Regions from separate parts of the Homo sapiens genome. Here region 1 is linked to region 2. Evidence: fine-mapped expression QTL. Tissue or cell type: cerebellum. Region 2 holds a variant in brackets; the other region holds the start of a gene. All regions are shown on one strand. Distances are from middle to middle.

Region 1 (2,608 bases), 140 kb after region 2:
CTTCCAGCCCTCCCCGGCCCCCCACCCCCACCCCCCCACTCCCCCGCTCTCCCACCCCACCACCATGCTCAGTCTGGAGCTGGCAACTTTATCTGTCCCCGGTGCTCCCAGAGCCCCTGATAAGATGAATGGTCGCGGTGTGGTTTTCTTTTGGTCAGCGAGTCCTGGGCTACTTTGTCTCTGACCAGCTGGGGTCAGAGGGCTGACAGCGGAAGTTGGGGGGCCCAAGAAAGGAACCCGGGCTGGGGCCTGGTGCCCTGCCTGGGTTCCTCCACCATGTCTCTTGCTGGCCAGGCCAGGACACCGGCTGCCCGCAAAGAAAGGGGCGAGGCCACTGGCTCTGGGGAAGGAACCGGGTCACCTACCAAGCGGTTCCAGATGGCCGCCGGGAGGGAAGCCACGAGTGTCTTTCAAGGCGGGGGGTGGGGGGGGGACTTGATGACTTCCACACTCTCTCTCTCTCCAGACATCTCCCCAACTCCCAGGCAGCACGCATCGCCCGCCCGCCCGCTTGCCCGCCTGCCAACCAAGGAAGCTTCGGGAGGCCTGGGGGGAGAAGGAGGACGGATGCCCGTGTGGGTGTCTACAGAGACGCTGCTGCTGGCTGCCTGGGAGGAGCAGAGGATTTTGTGAATCCGGAAACTTCCGATTTGGGAGCTTGTGACCTCGACTGAGAAGGAACTGTTCCCTTCCTCTGGGCTCTGCACACCGTCCCCACAGAAGGGAAGGCCCAGCTGCCGCCACCTACCCGGCTGGAGGTCCAGGAAGCAGCTAAAGGGGGCATGAGACAGCCGTGCCCCCCGCCCAGCCCGCAGCCCCACCAGTGTGTCCTGGGGGAAGGCTCGGGGAGAGGAAAAGGGGGCGACAGGGCACCCTGTGTGCACAGCCGGGGCGGTGGAGGCATCTTGAGATGTAACCCTTTTCCTCCCCTCATTTTAGCAGGGAGGTAAACTGAGGCCCAGGAAGGTGAGGAAAGGTCGCGCACCCGGACTCAGGTCTGGGGACTTACAGAAAGGGAGGTGACATCAGGAGGTGGGCACGCACGGCCTCAGAGACCCCCGCCTCCACCCAAGCAGCCGCCACTCACACGACGGGCAGCCCCTGGGAGCGGGTCAGGCAGAACGGGGATCCCCAGCGGCGCCCACGCCGAGTCGCCCCCGGCCCGGGAGCGGTGGGAGGTAGCCCCTCGCAGGCCTCCCGCTTCCCGGCGCGGCTTCAGCCCCGTCCTCCCCGCGGCTCCAGGGGACTGCCCCGCCCCAGGCTCCTGGAACCGGCGGCGCCCCCGCAGCGACCGTGCAGCCCCCGCCCCGGCCCCGCAGCCCCGCGACTCTCGGCGCTCGGACGAGCCCAGCGGGCCGCAGCCCCGGGAGGCCGGGCCGTTACCTGCCGCCGCCCCGCTCTCTGCCGCCCACGCCGCCTCCGAGGGCACGGCCCCCGCCTCAGCGCTCTCCGCCTCGTCCGGTACCTCCAGCTCCATGGCCGCGCGCGGACGGCGGCGGGGGCGCCCGAGGGGGACCCGAGCTGCGACCGCCGCCGCCGAACAACAAGCGCCGCCGGCCAAGGGAGGGCGCGCCGGGCCGGCGCGGGGCGGACGGGGCGGGGCCTGCGTGCGTGCGACGCCGCGGACGGCGCGCGGCCAATCGGGGCTCGGGGGCGGGGCCTGCTTGCGACCCGCAGCCAGGAGCGCCTCGAGTGCCCCCTCGCGCCCAGGGGTGGGAGTACAGAGCCAGGCTCGCCATTCCATCGTATTAGGTCAGTAAGATTGACAGGCACGATACGTATCAATAACATTGCTGTGCACAACACATACCAATAACATGGATCTACACAACACATGACAATAATATGGATCTATACAGCACGTGCCAATAATATGGATGTACACAGCACATGCCAATAACATGGATCTAAACAGCACATGCCAATAACAGGGACCTGCACAGCGCATGACAATAACATGGATCTGGCCGGGCGCGGTGACTCACGCCTATATTCCCGGCACTTTGGGAGGCCGAAGAGGGCGGATCACCTGAGGTCAGGAGTTCAAGACCATCCTGACCAACATGGTGAAATCCTGTCTCTACTAAAAATACAAAAAATAGCTGGGCGTGGTGGCACATGCCTGTAATCGCGGCTACTCGGGAGGCTGAGGCAGGAGAATCGCTGGAACCCAGGAGGGAGAGGTTGCAGTGAGCTGAGATCGCACCATTGCCCTCCAGCCTGGGCCACAGAGTGAGACTCTGTCCCAAAAAAAACCACACATGGACCTACACAGCACATGCCAATAACATGGAGTTACCCAATGCATGCCAATAACATGGATATACACAATACATGCCAATAACACGGATATGCACAATACATGCCAATAACATGGATATACACAATACATGCCAATAACATGAATCTATACTATATCATTGACATGGATCTACATAAAACATACAAATAGCATTGCTATATGCAATACATGCCAATCACATTGCTATACACAATGAATACCAATAACATTGATCTACACAATACATGTAACTAACATTGATACACACACTACATGTCAATAACATTGATATACACACTACATGCCAATAACATGGATATACACACT
Region 2 (2,500 bases):
CCACCTCAGCCTCCCAAGTAGCTGGGATTACAGGCGTGCGCCACCACGCTCGGCTAATTTTTGTACTTTAGTAGAGACGGGGTTTTGCCATGTTGGCCAGGTTGGTCTCAAACTCCTGACCTCAGGTGAGGAGGCCTCCCAAAGTGCTGGGATGACAGGGGTGAGCCACCGTGCCCGGCCCGCCCAGAAATTATCTTACGCGACTGTCAAAGAGCTTATCCAACTATTATGATCAAAGAGGCATTTGGGGCCCTGGGCTCCGCTCAGCAACCAATCCCAACGTAACCACAAAGGAAGGGACAGCCGGTCCCCTCCCTGTCTGCCGCCGCCTCAGGTACCCCAGGAATAGCCTGGACATAGGAAACATGAAACTCCAGTCCCCAAGCTGTGCCTGCTGCGGAGCCTGCCACCCTCAGACCACTGGAGATCCACTGCCTCTTGCAAAAAATGTCATCACCCAGATCCTGGGTCCAACCACCCATCCCAGTCATTGTTCCCAAGGGTGAGGAGGCACCCGCCTGCCCCTCCTGCCACCTGGAATTCCAAGAACTGAGCAGGATTCCTGGCCCTGCCTGCTGAAATGCCACATGTGTCCCAAATGCCAGGACGCAGCCGGCACTTCTGTGAGGGCAAGAAGAGCAGGGAAGGAGGCCGGCTAATCTTCAGGCCCAGGGTCCGGGAGGGGAGAGGAGGGCCGCTGGGAGGCAGCCCTGCAGTCTTATCGATGGGCACTGGGGCAGGGTGACCCAGCCCATGACGCCAGCCTCCTGCCCTCCCAACAGCCCTCTCTAATCAGGGCAGCTCCCCCAGACCTAGGGGGTCCCTGACCCTGGCCAGACAGATAGAGGCAATGCAAGAACAGGGCAGAGACCCCTGACCCTCCAGTCCCACCCAGGCGGCTCCCAACTCTCAACTCCCGGAGCAGCACCCTCAAACTGCTGACGCACCAGGTTGCCCTGGCAGAACACACAGAGAGAGAGGAGGCTCTAGGGGGCCTGACTGTCCCTCAGCCATAGCTGTCCCAGTTGGTCACCCTAATAGACGAGCTCAGGCTAGACAGACTGACAAAGGAGGCGCTGAGCAGTCACCACCAACCCTCCAGAGGGTTCAGGGTGGCCCGGGGGCTCAGACAAACAAAGGCATTCCCACTAGAAAGTCATGTAGTCAGATGGTGAGGGCCCCGCAGGTCAGACAGCAGCTCTGAGGCAGACAGGGGAGGCTGGACCAAGGGACAGACAGAGGGGATACGGGGCAGTTAAACAGACAGATGGGGGAGGCTCATGGCTCAGGCAGATAGAGAAGCCCTGCACAGTTGGACAGATGGGGGAGGCACTGCACAGTCAGACAGATGGGGGAGGCACAGCACAGTCAGACGGGGGAGGCTCAGGCCATGGGGCAGAAAGACGGGGGATGCTGGATGGTGGGACAGGCAGGGGAGGCTCAGGAGTGACACCACAGAGGGG[C/A]CACTGGGTAGTCAGACAGACGGGGGAGGCTCAGGCCACGGAACAGCCAGAGGGGTGAAAACTCAGCTCATGGGGCAGACAAACAGGGGAGACTTAGGTCCCAGGCAGGCAGAGAGAGGGGGCTGGGTGGTGGGACTGATGGAGGAAGCTCAGGCCATGGGCACAGACAGACAGACAGGGGAGGTTCGGGCCAGGGGACAGACAGAGGGGTGAAAACTCAGCTCATAGGGCAGACAGATACATAGGGGAGGTTAAGGCCGTGGACAGACAGTGCAGGGAAGCTCGGGCCACGGGACAGACAGACCGAGGGGAGACTCCGATCCTGAGGCAGGCAGACGGCGGGTGGTGAGTCAGAGGGAGGAGGCGCCCGGGTCGCGGAGTCTCGGAGGGGCTGCCCGACAGGTGGCGGGGCCGGGACGCTTACCGACCAGGTGCCAGGCCTTGCGCGGGCCGTAGCGGGCGCAGCAGCTGGCGGCGCGGTCGGCCTCGTAGCCCACGAGCGGTGTGCACAGCCCGTCGGCCACCTGGCCCAGCAGCAGCAGCAGCCCCGCGCCGCGGGAGCTGTAGGCGCGCACCGAGTGCAGGTAGAGCAGCAGGTAGGTGAACCACATGGACGCGCACAGGTCGTTGAGGAAGTGGCCCACGGCGTAGCTCAGCCGCGCCACCAGGGACAGCGGCCGCGGGGACGGCGCCGCTCCGGCCGCTGGGGGTCCCGGGCCCATCGCGGCGCCGGGCCCGCGCCCCCCACCCCCGGGCTCCGCGGAGGGTACCCTGGCCAGGCCTTCTTGGGTGCCGTGGGGGCAGGCGCCGGGGACCCCCACCACGCGCCGGGCACCCCGCGTCCCGCTCTCTTACGGCCGCGCCCTCACCCACGTCCGCCGCGTCCGCCCCACGCTCGACTCTGCAGCCGCCGGGCCCCAGAGCCGGGCGACTGCGCCGGGCGGGGCAGGGCGGGGAGGTTCCGGTGCCTGAGCCAATCGGAGCCGCGCCCCGGGGAACCGCAGCCAATCGCCAAGGAGAGAGGAGAGGGGCGTGGC

The links. PIP is the estimated chance that this variant, and not a neighbour inherited with it, causes the effect.
Region 1: PIP5K1C starts here. The variant in region 2 is fine-mapped to the expression of PIP5K1C in cerebellum (GTEx, PIP 0.95).

What each region holds. Positions count from the first base shown.
Region 1 is chr19:3,698,914-3,701,521 of GRCh38, forward strand. It overlaps PIP5K1C (phosphatidylinositol-4-phosphate 5-kinase type 1 gamma), which reads right to left and starts at 1,555. Exons shown (of 18, transcript NM_012398.3): 1 at 1,384-1,555. The coding sequence starts at 1,477. RefSeq lists an enhancer at 612-1,395 and silencers at 1,094-1,233, 1,314-1,803.
Region 2 is chr19:3,555,219-3,557,718 of GRCh38, forward strand. It overlaps MFSD12 (major facilitator superfamily domain containing 12), which reads right to left and starts at 2,368. Exons shown (of 10, transcript NM_174983.5): 1 at 1,888-2,368. The coding sequence starts at 2,185. RefSeq lists silencers at 1,794-1,963, 2,144-2,213, 2,254-2,500. The variant C/A (reference allele first, on the strand shown) is at 1,464.